Regions from separate parts of the Homo sapiens genome. Here region 1 is linked to region 2. Evidence: fine-mapped expression QTL. Tissue or cell type: prefrontal cortex. Region 2 holds a variant in brackets; the other region holds the start of a gene. All regions are shown on one strand. Distances are from middle to middle.

Region 1 (8,107 bases), 33 kb after region 2:
TGAAAAGAGAAACATATCTAACCAGCACCCAGACATTCTAGTCATCCTAGGCCAAGCGTCAGATATGTGAATAAGAAAGCCATCTTGGACATTACAGCCCAGCAGGTGCCACATTACTGGGAGAACTTGACTATTGTCTAGCTCCAGCCAATAGCCGGAAAATAGTCAAGGTGTCTCAGACATGTCCAGTTATTTGAGCCCCAGCTGAGGTCCCAGACACTATGGGGCAGAAACAAGCCATTACCACTGTACCCTGCTCAAATTCCTGTTACATAGTATTATTTGCTTTATACCACTAAGTTCTGGGGTGGTTGGTTACACAGCAAAAGGTAACCAGAACAAATTATAAAATAATGCAATCCCATATATGATGATAGAACAGCAGTGTCTTTTGATGCTAATTTATTAATAATTATTGGGGGGAGGTAGTCTAAAGCTATGACATTTTTAGGAATCCTGATGGCCCCCTGAAATTTTGGGGAGAAAAATGAGTAGAAGTTCCCCTTTAGAACAGACATGATCTAAGGGCCAAGCTTTAGAAGTAACTATTCAGCATTTATTTTGAGCTGACAGAGCTATATCCGTTAATAAGGGTGGATACCCAGACTAGATATGCTAAAGCTATAAGGAGTTCTATTAGATGCTTGATCAAACTCCCTTTGGCTGGAACTGATCAGAAATTTTTAAATCAGGAAAAGGAGATATGTTTATCCATGTTCCAAGACTTTAATATTTTGAGTTAATGTGTGTGAATACGATAGTCAATACTTCTTAACATAGAAAAAGTTTGATGGTGTCAAATTTTAGGCATGTTGACACTACTGATATTATACAGATGTAATTTGAGCAATTACAAAGAGGTGTCAACAACTTAAATACCAAAATATCTTTATACCAAATCTTACCAAGTCTTGTGGGGTGTTTCCTGCATTCATCCCTTCTCATTCCACTCCTTTTTTTTTTCCAGAGATGGGGTCTCACTCTATTGCCCAGGCTAGAGTGCAGTAGTATGATCATAGTTCACTGCAGCCTACAATTCGTGGGCTCAAGCACTTCAATCATCCTTTTTCAAGGCTGTTCTTCTCTATTTCTTACCACTAACAAAGTTTCGATGCTATACTCCATGCTTAAATTATTATAATTATATTCTAATTTATCCCCAGGATCCAATCACTCCCTATCCTTCAAAACCTTTGAAGCAATTCATCTAAAGAAAACACTGGTTGATCATGACATTCACCTGTAAATATTAAACAAAGTCAATCCCTTCTCCAAAATTTCCTAAGGTACTCTACCATCCCTATTTTCCATAATCCTGTCAGCAACCATTCTCCTACTAAGCTTTCCACTCCAATCGATCTAATCTACCCTTAGAATCCTGAACCTTGCTTACTTCTTACTCTCCTCATTCTCCTTAATAGGAGAATCATTCCCTTCCCTTCTCCGATCAAATTCTTCATTACACTTTCCTGGGTCACATCAACCCAACGTCATAGCTTCTTGATTGAGCATTATATTCTTAGAACTTAGATAGAGATACCACCTAGACTCTTAAAATCCTTTTTGGAAATAGGCAGGGTAGGAATAAATCAATGAATATACATACATATGTGCAAACATAAATAAAATGAATATAGTATATTGCATTACTTTAACATTTAAACACATCTCATTTCTCTTCTGAGATCAAGTACACTGAGGGAACATATCTCATCCTTTTTTCATCCATGTTCAGCACCTTGTCTACACATACAGAAGACATTTTGTGCCTTTCATAAATACTTCATGAGTGTCTATATTGATTAGGCAGTATTTAAGATAAAAGTGGGAATGTGATGATAAATGACATTTGTTCTCTACGCTCAAGGAGCTCACACTGCATCAGGAAAAGATATATAAACAATCTACTATAACACAATGTGGTAAGTGCCAAGTTAAATTTGAACAAATAGCTAAGGGGCACAGTTTGGTGAAAGACTATCAGAAACCATGGAATTTCTAGTTAGACTTTCTCAGATTATCAGAGTTCATCTCTTTCTCCTTTATTCTATTACTCCATTTTGCCTGAATCCTCATTACAAAATTTATCATAAACCTTAAGCAACCAATTAATGTTACTTGAAGTATGCCAACTATCATCCATACTAAGTTGCAGTGTCTGGAAGATGTAGATAGTGCTTATGTCTTGGGCATAACAAGCAATCAAGAGTCTGAAGTAAACTGATATACAGATATATATCTATATAACCTGTTCCATGTAGATTATGCTCTATATATTATAGTAGGTGAGTAATAAATATTTGATTATGCCAACTAAAGCTGCAGTCAAGTTTTGGCAAATACTTGTTCTATAATCCTAATGCAAGAGCATAAACTATTTATGGCAGAATAGAAACAGCATCCTCGGACTGTTCATCTTTAAGCACCCAGGATTAGAGAAGGCTAATAAAAAGGGTGGTGGGGAACCCCACCATATTTGGATCAAACTGACACTCACATATGCTGGGATTTCCGAACTACCTGGTGAGGCAGGTTCCACCCATGCCCCAACTGGTACTATAGCCTCGTTCCTCTCAGCCAGCACTGCCAACACGTCCTTGCTCTTCAGGGGGTTTAAAGCCAGGGGCAACCTTGAGGTATTTCGAGGTTTCTTTCGGGCCATACTTCCCAGCATCTGTGACTCCTGATTAGGAGAAAGAAAAAGCTTAAAATCTTCAAATGACTGCATTAAAAGTTCAACCTCCTAACACATGAGCCACAGGCCCGTGAAAAGGAGAGAAGCCCTGGAGGCAGAAGCCTGGCATGAAGTGGAAACACACGGATTCTAGAGAAAAAGGAAGAAAAGAAGGGAAGAGAAATGGGAAGAAATAAAGAGGCAAAGAAAGGTTTTTAAGTTGCCTTCTAGAAGAAATGGCGATGAGAGGGAAGAGAAAGGATGGGAATGAGAGAACGAAGACTGTCCTCAGCTGTGGGCGCAGCGAGGCGGGAAGGGAGGAATGACAGCTGCAACCCGGAGAAAGAGGGAGGGGCGGGGACCTGTGTCTGCAGCCGAGAGTCCCAATAATCGGTATAGGTTATGGGAAGACGCGCTGAACGGCTGGGAGCCTCGGGCCAGATAAAAGCCTGCTTCTGAGGCCCCGAGGCCTGCTCCGGCTGAGATGGCACTGGCCAGGAATCGGCCCGCAGCTCGCCACAGACTCAGTCTACTCGGAGTACTAAGGTAACCGCCTCAAGTAGACCGCCACTTTGCGGTGGGCTGCTCCGTCCCGCCCATCCGTAGCCTTATGCCCGCCCTTTCCGGAGCCCGCGTCCCCTCCCGGAGCTGGGAAGGCGTGAGAGGTGGAGTTTCGAGCGCCCGAGGTATCGTCATTTCCTCTTCCTGTCCGGCTGAGGGGGCGGGGACGTGTGGGTAAGCGGAGTCGCTGGGTAATGCGCCATGTGAGGCGCGGTGGGACTGTCGTTCCTGGACCAACGCCGAGACTTCCTAAATCCCTCCGGAAAGGGATGCGTTGGGCCTGTGATCTGGCGACTAGGAGGGTCAGGAGTCCCAGTAGAGGGAATCACGGGAAAAGAATGAAAGAGGGAGGCGAGCCTGGCACGGCTTCCTGGAGAAACAAACTAAGCTAACAAATTTTTCGGATCCTTTGTGCAGCTAATTTTACAGTACTGTTTCATACATCTTATTATATTTGGACATCACGGCCTGTTGAGTGGTCTCCCTCTCTGCTGCAAGCTCTGCTGTAATCCAGAGACACTCAATTATCTCTGTAGGATAATTTATTCATTCGATTAACATACATTACTACTAACTTTTTATAAACCAGTACTGTTCCAAGCACCGGAGATACATAGCTATGAACGAAACAAATATCCCTGCTCAGGGAATTCACAATAGAGTGAGGGGAAATAAGCGAATAAACAATGAGTAAGTAAATGTGTGTGATGTGGAGTAAAAGCAAAGAAAGCGGATAGGGAGTGTGGTGGGCAGGGTGGGGATTGGAGGGATGAAATATTAGAACGTCCAGAGAAGCTGCACTGAGATACTTTTCAGCAAAGACTTAAATGAGTTAATGGAAGAAGCCACTGTGCTCTTCAACGGAGGCTTTATAAACATGTTCCAGATATAACAGCAAGTATAAACGCCCCAAGGTGGAAGCATTGCCTGGTTGAGAAAAAGTCAGGAGGATAGTGTGACTGGAGCAGAGGGAGAGTGGAAGAATGCTGAGACAGTAGGTCAAGCAGGCAATCCGATCAAACATCGTAAGCCACCATAGGTGTTGAGATGGGGAGCCACTGGAGCAAGGTTTGGAGCAAAGGAACACCATAATGTGACAAAATTAAAAAAATAATAATTCCGAATGCTGTAGTGAGAATAGACTGTAAAGAAGACCAATTAGGTGGCTATTGCAATAATTCAGTTAAGGGATTGTGATGTCTTGGATCAAGGAGGTAGTGGTGGAGATGATGATAAGTGGTTGGATTCTGTATCTATTTGGGAGGCAAAACTTTCAGGATCTGTTGAAGGTTTGGATATGGATTGTGTGAGGGAGAGATGTCAAGGAAAACTAGGGGTTTCATCCTGAGCAGCTGTCAGGATGAAATTACTATTTACTGAGATAGTGAAGATGGTGGAAGGAGTAGATTTGGAAAGGGGAAGATCAGGAGTTCAGTTTGGGGCAGATAAAGTTTTATCTAATCAACATCCGAGAAGATAGTATGAGAAAAAGTGTCTGGAGCTCAGAGAAGGGTTCTGGGCTACAAATATAAATCTAAGAGTCGTTAGCCTGTAGATTTAAAGCCATGAGACTGGATGGAGTCATCAAGGGGTTGAATATAGACAGATAAAAGAATAAATCCTAAAACAGCCCCAGGGTATGTCAGTATTACAGAGGCTGAGAAAAAGAGGAGGAGAATGCTAAGAGATTGAGAAGGATTAATCAGTAAACCAAGGAAGAAAACTATGAGGGTGTGATACCTTGAAAGCCAGGTGAAAAAGAAATGTTCCATTGAGGGCAGACAATCTGTGTTAAATCCTACTGACAGATCAAATAAGGTAAGGACTGAAAATTGACTATTGGATTTGACCATGTGGAAGTGATTGATAACTTTTAAAAGAGCAGTGTCTTTAGAGTAGTTGGAGAGCAAAAGCCTGATGGGCTAGGCAAGAAAGAGTAGGAGAAGGAATTGGAGACAGCAATTTTAGACAATTCTTTCCATGAATTTTGTTGTGAAGGGACACAGCGAAAGAGGTGGCTGAACGTAGAGGTAGGATCATTGGAGAGTTCTTTAAGATCATAGCATATATTTGTTATTGATGGAAATTAACCAATAGACAGGAGAAAACTAATGATGCGGGAGAGATATGGGAGAATTTAGGGATCTACAGTCATGTGTCACTTAAAGATGGGGATACATTTTGATAAATGTTAGGTGATTTTGTCTTTGTGCAAACCTCATAGAGGAAATGGAATTTAGTGAACAAGTGGAGGGATTGGCCTTAGATAGCAGGAGGTATGGTTAATTATAATAATAGCAGAAAAGTTAGAATACACAGTAAACTGATAATTAGGTAATGTGGTGGCAGGAGCTTATGGAAATTCTCTTCTGATTACTCTGTTTTCTCTGTAAAATAGTATTGTAGCCAACCTCCAAGATGGCCCCTAATGATCCCCACCTCTTGGTGTTCACACCTTTGTGTAGTCCCCTCCCACATTGTACCTAGGTTGGACTGTATGACCAACAGAATATGGCAGAAGGGATGGTATATTACTACAGAGGTTAGGTTATAAGAGATATGCTCACATGGGCTCGCTCACTCTCTCTCCCTCCCTCCTTCCCTCCCTCCCTCCCTCTCAGATCTCTTGTTCTGAGGGAAGCCATGTACATCATTAGCAGTTCTATAAAGAGGATCACATGGCAAGAAACTGAAACATTCTGCCAGCTGCCCTGTGAAAGAACTTGGAAGTAGACCCTCCAGCCCTAATCAAGTCTTCAGAGACTGTACTCAGCCAACAATTGACTGCAACCTCATAAGAGACCCTGAGCCAGACCGCCCAACGAGAAACTGTGTGAGATAATGTTTGTTGTATTAAGATGCTAAATTTGAGGGTCATTTGTTATACAATGAGAGAAGTAGGAGGTAAGGGACTATGAAAAGTTGGTAGAGTCAAGAAGTTGTAGGTTCCTGTGGTGGTCTAAAGTTTGTTAGAACAGGATACTCAAAAGAATGTGCTAAGATAAGAGGTGGTCTGAGAGTAGGCTGCTTGGAGCTGAGTGTATGCAGAGGTTGTGGTTATTGGTGCTGTCAAAGTCTATGGTATGACCAAAGGAGGGAAAGCTAAGGTGGGTTAAAGAACAAGATCACTGGAGAAGAGGTCATAGAAACCAAACACCAGAGCATTGATTGGATGATCCATGAGGATACTGAAATCACCAAAAAATATAACAAGAATGATGTTGGAGAAAGCCAGAAGCAACAATCTTGAAAAGGCTTGGAGGTTGGTGGGTAAGTATAGCTTGGAAACCCAAGCATGGTATATTCTGGTGACATGAGGTTCAAAGTTGGAGGTGAGGTTAAGAAAAAGGGAGGATGTGGTTTAGCAAAAGCACTGAGTAACTGAATAGCAAGAAGGAAACCCATCCCACCTCCACCCAGAGGGGCAAGGAACAGAAAACAGCTACTATTAGGTGAGTGCAAAAGTTATTGTGGTTTTTCATTGTTGGAATTTGCCATTTGATGTTGGAATACATGCTTGAATAAATGTGGTTATGTTATACATCAGTTTAATGGGCATTTCTCACTTTTATTTTTTTGCTAATGACTTCTTGCTGTTTATGTTTATTTTAGACTATGGAAATTATGTTAGACAAAAAACAAATGCAAGCAGTTTTCTTATTCGAGTTCAAAATGGGCTGCAAAGCAGCAGAGACAACTTGCAACATCAAGAGTGCATTTGGCCCAGGAACTGCTAATGAACGTACAGTGCAGTGGTGGTTCAAGAAGTTTTGCAAAGGATGGCCAGGCGCAGCAGCTCACACCTATAATCCCAGCACTTTGGGAGGCCAAGGCATCCGGATCACTTGAAGTCAGGAGTTCGAGGCCAGCCAGGCCAACATGGTGAAACCCCATCTCTACTAAAAATAAAAAAATTAGCTGGGCATGGTGGCATGCACCTGTAATCCCAGCTACTCGGGAGGCTGAGGTGGGAGAAGCGCTTGAACCCAGGAGGCAGAGGTTGCAGTGAGCTGAGATTGTGCCACTGCACTCCAGTGACAGAACAAGACTCCGTCTCAATTTAAAAAGAAAGAAAGAAAGAAAGAAAGTTTTGCAAAGGAGCTGAGAGCCTTGAAGATGATGAGCATAGTGACCGGCCATGGGAAGTTGACAATGACCAATTGAGAGCAATCATTGAAGCTGATCCTCTTATAGCTACATGAGAAGTTGCCTAAGAACTCAATGTTGACCATTCTATCGTCACTCAGCATTTGAAGCAAATTGGAAAGGTAAAAAAGCTCGATAAGTGGATGCCTCATGAGCCAACTGAAAATAAAAAAAATATATCGTTTTGAAGTGTTGTCTTCTCTTGTTCTACACAACAATGAACCATTTCTCGATTGGATTGAGATGTGCTATGAAAAGTAGATTTTATACAACAGCTGGCAATGACCAGCTCAATGGTTGGGCCCAGAAGAAGCTCCACAGCACTTCCCAAAGCACCAAAAACAGGTCATGGTCACCGTTTGGTGGTCTGCTGCCAGTCTGATCCACTACGGCTTTCCGAATCCCAGTGAAACCATTACATCTGAGAAGTATGCTTAGCAAATCAATGAGGCACTGAAAAGTGCAACACCTGCAGCTGACAGTGGTCAACAGAAAGGACCCAATTCTTCTCCACAGCAACTACAATGCCCGACTGCATGTCGCACAACCAACCCTTCAAAAGTTGAACAAATTGATCTATGAAGTTTTGCCTCATCCACCATATTCATCTGACCTGTGGCCAACCAACTACCACTTCTTCAAGCATCTCAACAACTTTTTGCAGAGAAAACACTTCTACAACCAGCAGGATGCAGAAAATACTTTTTAAGAGTTTGGCGAATCTGG
Region 2 (8,107 bases):
TATTTGGAGTAATATGCTGCTGGTAATACTTTAACATTTAGTAAGAGCACTGGAGTTTTGAGAAATCAATCAAGAAACTATTTTTTCCAAGTATGGATCTCCAAATCAGGTACAATATACAGCATACCTATTTTTATTATGCTTTGCAGATGTTGTGTTTTTTACAAACTGAAGGTTTGTGGCAATCATACGTCAAGCCAATACACTGGTGTCACTTTTCCAACAGCATGTGCTCGTGTAATGTCTCTGTGTCACATTTTGGAAATTTTCACAATAGTTCAGACTTTTCCATTACTATTATATCTGGTATAGAGATCTATGATCAGTGATCTCTGATGTTACTATCCTAATTGTTTTGGGGCACCATAACCACGCTCATCTAAGACAGCAAACCTAACTGATAAATGTTGTGTGTGTTCTCACTGTTCTACCACCTGGCCACCCCCCTACCTCTCCTTAGGCCTCCCTATTCACTGAGACACAACAATATTGAAATTAGGCCAATTAATAACCCTACAATGGTCTCTAAGTGTTCAAGTGAAAGAAAGAACCACATGTCTCCCACTTTAAAGCAACAGCTAGAAATTATTAAGCTTAGTGAAACAGGCCTGTTGAAAGCCAAGACAGTCCGAAGGCTAGGCCTCTTGTACCAAACAGCCCTGTGTGAATGCAAAGGAAAAGTTCTTGAAGGAAATTAAAATCTACTCCAGTGAATACATGATAAGAAAGCAAAATAGCCTTATTGCTGATATGCAAAATGTTTTAGCAGTATGGACAGATCAAACCAGCCACAACAGCTCCTTAAGCCAAAGCCTGATCCAGAGCAAGGCCCTAACTCTCTTCAATATTATGAAGGCTGAGAGAAGTGAAAAAACTACAGAAGAAAAGTTGGAAGTTAGCAGAGGTTGGTTCATGAGGTTTAAGGAAATAAGGTGTCTCTATAACATCAAAGGGCAAGGTGAAGCGGTAAGTGCTGATGAGAGGCTACAGCAAGTTATCTAGAAGATCTAGCTAAGATCACTGATGAAGGTGGCTACACTGGACAACAGATTTTCAGTTTGGACAAAACAGCCTTATATTGGAAGAAGATGACTAGGAGTTTCACAGCTAGAGAGAAAAAGTCAATGTCTGGCTTCAAAGTTTCAAAGGACAGGCTGACTCTCTTGTTAGTGGCTAATGCAGCTGGTGACTTTAAGTTGAAGCCAATGCACATTTACCATTCCAAAAGTCCTAGGACCCGTAAGAATGGCACTAAATCTACTTTTCTTGTGCTTTGTGAAGGGAATAACAAAGCCAAGATGACAGCACATCTGTTTACAGCATGTTTTACAGAATATTTTACACTTACTGTTGAGACCAACTGTTCCAAAAAAAATAAAGATGCCTTTTAAACTGCTCATTGACAATGCACCTAGTCACCCAAGAGCTCTGATGAAGATATACAAGGAGATTAATGTTGTTTTTTCATGGCTGCTAACACAACATCCATTCTGTAGTTTGTGGATCAAGAAATAATTTTGACTTTCAAGTCTTGTTATTTATAAAATACATTTCTGTCACGGACAGCAATTCCTCTGATAGATATGGGCAAAGTAAGTTGATACCCTCTGGAAAGGGTCCACCATCTTGATGCCATTAAGAACATTCATGAATCATGGGAGGAGGTCAAAATATCAACCTTAACAGGAGTTTGGAAGAAGTTGATTCGAACCCTCATGGACTTTGAGGCATTCAAGACTTCAGTGAAGGAAGTAATTGTAATGTGGTAGAAACAGCAAGAGAACTAGAATTAGAAGTGGAGCCTGAAGATGTGAGTGAATTGCTGCAATCTCATGTTCAAACTTAAATGGATAAGGAGTTACTTCTTATGATGAGCAAAGAAAGTGTTTTCTTGAGATGGAATCTACTGTGAACATTGTTAAAATGACAACAAAGGGTTTAGAATATTACACGGACTTAGCTGATAAAGCAGTGGCAGGGTTTGAGGGAATTGATTCCAATTCTGAAAGAAGTTCTACTGTAGATCAAATGCTATCAAACATTATCACATGCTACAGAGAAATGTTTCGTGAAAGGAAGAGTCAAATGATGTGGCAAACTTCATCATCTTAAGTAACTTCCACAGCCACCCCAAACATCAGTAATCACCACCCTGATTAGTCAGCAGATAACAACATTGAGCCAAGACCCTCCACCAGCAAAAAGATTATGGCTTGCCGAAGACTCAGATAATCGTAAGCATTTTTTAGCAATAAAGTATTTTTAAATTAAGGTATGTACTTTTTTTAGGCATTATGCTATTGCACACTAATAAACTACAGTACAATATAAACATAACTTTTATATGTACTGGGAAGCCAAGAAATTTGTGTGACTTACTTTATTCCAATATTTGCTTTATTGCAATGGCCTGGAACTGAACCCACAGTATCTCCAAGGTATACTTGCAGTCCTTACAAATCCCTCCTCAAACCCTAAGTAGCTTATTTCTTCTTTTTGTATCTCCTTTCTGCTCTATTTTACCTGATATTTTGGTAGAAAATCTTGGTCCTGACATTTGGGTAGAATATTCTGGTCGTTGGAGAGAACATGCAGGTCTCTGGGTAGAAAATCCCGGTCCTGACATATGGGTAGAATATTTTGGTCTTTAGGAAGATAACCTTGGTCTCTGGGTAGAAAATCCTGGTCCTGACATATGGGTAGAATATTTTGGTCTTTGGGAAGAACACCTTGGTCTCTGGGTAGAAAATCCTGGTCCTGACATTTGGGTAGAATATTCCAGTCTTTGGGGAGAACATGCTGGTCTCTAGATAAAAAGTCCTGGTCTTTAGGTAGAAAATCCTGGCCTTGATATTTAGGTAGAATATTCTGGTCTTTGGGGAGAACATGCTGGTCTCTAGACAAAAAATTCTGGTCCTTAGGTAGAAAATTCTGGTCCTGATATTTTGGCAGAATATCTTGGTCTTTGGGGAGAACATGCTGGTCTCTAGATAAAAAATTCTGGTCCTTAGGTAGAAAATTCTGGTCCTGATATTTTGGCAGAATATCTTGGTCTTTGTGGAGAACATGCTGGTCTCTGGGTAGGAAGTCCTGGTCCTGATATTTGAGTAGAATACTCTGGTCTTTAGGGAGAACACAGTGGTCTTTGAGTAAAACATCCTGGTTTTTCGTTAGAAGAGCCTGATTTGTGGGTAGAAAATCCTGGGTTTTCAACACAATACTCCCTTCTTCTAGCTCAATACTCTGGGCTTTCAGCATAATACCCTGAGTTTCTGTCTTAATAGGCTGGCCTTCTGGCTCAATGGCCTGGCCTTCTGGCTCAGTAACCTGAACCTTCATTTCAACAGCCTGGGTATCTGGCTTAACACTCTGGATTCCTGTCAAATCACCCTGGGTTTCCAGCAAATCACCTTGGGCTTCTAGAAAATAATCCTGGGCTTCTGGCAGAATATCCTGAAGGCCCTCAAAATGTAACTGCTTTTGTTCTTCCTCTTCCATCAGAACAAATAATGGATTTTTGAATTTTACTTTCTAAAAGTGAACATAAACACCAAATACAGAATGTGAGTTAGTAGCAATACTCTAGATTTTCCAAAATAATCGAAATATCAAAATGATATGGCAGTGAAGCAAATTACTAGAACAAAATGTGAAATTATAATCTTTGTCCAACTTAACAAAAGCTAAATCTACAATCCTAAATCAGTACAACATTACTGGCAATACCTAGTCCAAATCACAATTAATTTAATTTCTCTTATTGCTTTACCTGAACTCTGCTGAAAGGTTTGTTCTTATCTTCAGAATGGATAGCCTGCTGGTCCTGCTGGCCTCTCCCAAACAAATCTTCTTTCCCTTTCTCATCAGTTACAAGAGATGAAGATTCCTCATAGTCAGGTTCCTCATAGTCAAGTTCCTAAAGAAAAAAACAATGAAAACGCGCACGCGCGCGCGCGCACACACACAAACACACACACACACACACACA[CAG/G]CACCATGTAGCTATTATAGGAAGAAACAATGTGATTGCAATAAAATTCTAGGCTTCAGGTCACTGCTATTATAATTTTAGTAGGTCAGCATAGTCAAATGTTATACAATGTTTACAGTGCAGGACTGTATAATGAAAACTAAAAAGATAATTGAAAGAAATGACAGATGATCAAAATAAATGGAAAGACATAACATGTTCATGGATCAAGAGAAAAGATTGGTAAGATGGTAATATTTCTCAAATTTACAACACTCCCTATCAAAATGCCACTTGGCTTTTCTTTGGCAGAAATTAACAAGTTAATCATAAAATTCAGATGGAAATGCAAGGAACCCATAGTAGCAAAACACTTTCTTGAAAAAGAAGAACAAAGATGAAGATCTCATTCCTCCCAATTTCAAAAGTTACCACAAAGTTATAGGAATCAAGACATTGTAATACTGACACATACAGAACAATGGAACAGAACTCAAAGTTCAGAAATAAACCCTCACATTTATAGTCAATTGATTTTTGACAAGAGTACCAAGAAAATTCAATGAGGAAAGAATAGTGTTTTCAACAGGTGATGCTGAGACAACTAGACACCTATATTCAAAAGAATGAAGATGAACCACTTATTTACAGCATACATAAAAATTAACTCGAAATGGATCACAGACCTAAAATTAAGAGCTAAAAACTATAAAATCTTAAAAGAACACATAGGAATAAATCTTCATGATCTCAAGATAAACAATTATTATTAGATAATTCATCAAAAGCACAAGCAACATAAGAAAAAAAGAAGTGACTAATTTAAAAATCTTATGCCATAAACAATACTATTAATCAAGTAAGATAACAGTCTACAGAATGGGAGAAAATACTTGCAAATCAACTATCTGATAAGGAACTTGTATCCAGAATATATACATATTATATATATACATTTTATGTATAAATTTATATATATATAAACACTTAACAATTTGATAATAAAAAGACAACCCAATTAAAAAATGGGTAAAGCACATGCATGACATTTTATCCACAAGAGTTACACAACTGGGCAACAAGCACATGAAAAGATACTGAAGATCATTAGTCATCAGGAAAATATACTACAAATCAAAAGGACAGTGAGATACCAATTCACATCTACTAGGATAGCTATAACAGAAGAGAAGGACAATAATAAGTGTTGGAGGATACAGAGAAATTGGAACCCTCACATATTGCTGGTGGAAAACTGTTTAGCAGTTCTTTGAAATGTTAAACATAGAATTACTATATGATCCAGCAGGTTCACTCCTAGAAATGAATGTCCTAAAAGAAATGAATGTCCACACAAAAATGTGTACACAACTGCTCATACACAATCGTTCATAATTCATAAACACCAAGAAGTGAAAAGAACGCCAAAGTCTACTAACTGATAAATGGATAAACCAAATGTGGTACATCTATACAATAAATTATTCAGCAATAAAAAGAATGAAGTACTGATACATCCACTACAATGTGGATGAACTTTAAAACATTATGCAAAGAGAAAAAACAGTCACAAAAGACGATATATCATATAATTCCTTTCATATGAAATGTCCAGTATAGGTAAACCTATACAGACAAAAGGTAGATTAGTAGCTGCCTAGGATTGAGGTTAAGGGCAAGGAGAGAATGAGATAGAGGGTTTCTCTTAGGAGTGAAGAAAATGCTCTAGAGCAAATCCCAAAAACAAGATAGCTGGCTAGAAGCAGCCAGGAGGAACATCTACTACCGAGAGACTGGAACATTAGGTACACTCTTAGCAGATCTCTGGAGGGAAGGCATTAAGAGTGGACAGAGGGAAGACACAGATGCTGGGCCAAAGGAGGAGGAAGGTGGGAACCTTGAAGAGGGCTACCGTGCACCAGGACTTGTTCCTGGCCCCCAGTGGCTCCTGGGGAAGGGATGAATTGAACAAGTGAGAAGAGACCTGCTCACTCCACAGACCTCTGGAATCCTGGCAGCAGGAGACCCCATAACCCCACTGACACTTGCGCTGGCAGGGAGAGCTGCTTAGAGAGGTGGTGGGCAGAATTCCAGCCGGTGCAAAGCCTAGAGGGTTTGGTAAAGGAGTATCTGTAGTGGGGCATGGTCAGGCTGTCCATCCCCCAAGGCCCACCTTGCTCCCCTAGGAGACATTAGCCACAGGGGAACTGTCGGACGTGAACAGTGCAGGGCGATCTTGCCCGTGAGACAGGGCCAGTTTTACATGAGTGCACCCCTGTCTACCAGCCTCTCCCAGGGCCCCAGCCCTGCTTGCAGTGCAACCTCAGATGCCCACCGGGGTGCCTCCCAGAGGCCCACATAATAGCTCCTGTGCTGGCAGACCATGCCTGACCATCACAGCAGACCACACCAACCAGCATGAGCCTGCCTATGCCCTTCCCCCACTGCGTCCTCCCTCATGCCACTTTTCCAGCATGCACTCATCCATAGCAACACCTACATCATTTTACTCACATGTGTGTGTGCAGGCAGACCTCACCTCTGCTTCCCCACCAGTGTGCATGCATCCCACCATGCCACTGCTGCCAATGTGAGCGCACCCTGCCTGCAATGGTGTGTCACTACTGCCAATGCAAAGGCACTCAAGGAGACGAGCAGCCCTACCCCCTGCCCTGCACGGCCACTGCTGCACATGAACGCCTACCTGGAGGGAACCAGCCCCATGCCTGTGAGTGCCCCATGACATGCTGACACTGCCACCAGAGTGAACATGCACACTGATGCCAGTAGGCCCCACTCCCGCCGCTCCATCCTCTGGTGCAGCACTGCAACCACCACCACTGCAAATGCCCACAAGGAGGCCAGCACCCCTGCACCTGCCGGCACCCCACCACGGCGTGTACCCTGCCACGCTGCCACTGCTGCTGGCACATAAAAACAAGCATGAATCCCATTGCCACCACCCAAAAAAGCGTTTTGGCTGGCACCATCCATCAGTGTGTTGTGACCAGCAGCCTGGGAACACCTTAGCTCCTCCAGTGTGGCAGGTTCCTAACCTTAAGAGGCCAGAGAACAAAGCCAGGGCCAATACCAGCCCCCCAGATTTGGAGCACACAGTCCAAGAGTCATGAGCTGAGTTCTGGCCCCTAAAATCTTCCAGAAATGAAGCCAGTCAACTGACTCCCCCTTATACCAGAATCAAACCCCCAAGGACATCAAAGAGGATTAAAAAAAAAAATCCAAAGGATAGCAACTTCAAAGACTGAAGGAACAACACAGCCCACAAACATAAGAACCAGTGCAAGAACTCTGACAACTCAAAAAGCCAGAATGTCTTCTTACCTCAAATGACTGCACTAGTTCCCCAACAATAATTCTTAACTAGTCTGAAATGGTTGAGATAACAGGAATAGAAATCAGAACATGGATAGGAACAAAAATATCGACATTCAGGAGAAAGTTAAAACCCAGTCCAAGGAATCTAAGTATTACAATAAAACGATACAGAAGCTGATAGACAAAATGGCCATTATAAGAAGCAAACTGATCTGATAGAGCTGAAAAACACACTACAAGAATTTCATAATGCAGTAGTATTAATAACAGAATTAACCAAGCTGAGGAAAGAACCTCAGAGCTCAAAGACTGGCTCTCCAAAATAACTCAGTCAGACAAAAATAAAGAAAAAAGAATAAAGAAGAATAAACAAAACCTCCAAAAAATATGGAAGTATATAAAAAGACCAAATCTATGACTCATTGGCATCCCTGAGAGGGAAAGAAACCAAGCAACTTGCAAAATGTATTTCATATTTTCATATCATCCATGAAAATTTGTCCAACCTGGCTAGAGAGGCCAACATTCAAATTCAGGAAATGCAGAGAACCCCTGCAAAATACTACAAAAGAAGAAGACCATCCCCCAACCACACAGTTCTTAGATTCTCCAAGGTCAAAATAAAAGAAAAAATGTTAAAGGCAGCCAGGGAGAAGAGATAGGTCATCTACAAAGGGAATCCCATCAGGTTAACAGCAAACCTGGTGGCAGAAACCCTAAAAGCTGGAAGAGATTGGGGGCCTATATTAAGCATTCTTAAAGAAGAGAATTTACAACCAAGAATTTCACATCCAGCCACACT

What was found. PIP is the estimated chance that this variant, and not a neighbour inherited with it, causes the effect.
Region 1: CCDC15 starts here. The variant in region 2 is fine-mapped to the expression of CCDC15 in prefrontal cortex (ROSMAP, PIP 0.95).

The regions. Positions count from the first base shown.
Region 1 is chr11:124,949,300-124,957,406 of GRCh38, reverse strand. CCDC15 (coiled-coil domain containing 15) reads right to left here and starts at 3,205. Exons shown (of 16, transcript NM_025004.3): 1 at 3,037-3,205; 2 at 2,498-2,683. The coding sequence starts at 2,674. It overlaps CCDC15-DT (CCDC15 divergent transcript), which reads left to right and starts at 3,416. Exons shown (of 3, transcript XR_948134.3): 1 at 3,416-3,925; 2 at 5,857-6,068; 3 at 6,848-8,107. RefSeq lists an enhancer at 3,002-3,545.
Region 2 is chr11:124,982,551-124,990,657 of GRCh38, reverse strand. CCDC15 (coiled-coil domain containing 15) reads right to left here. Exons shown (of 16, transcript NM_025004.3): 7 at 3,770-3,916; 8 at 2,524-3,531. Among named protein-coding and RNA genes, the nearest start is that of CCDC15, 32 kb to the right of the region's middle. RefSeq lists an enhancer at 6,550-7,302. The variant CAG/G (reference allele first, on the strand shown) is at 3,989.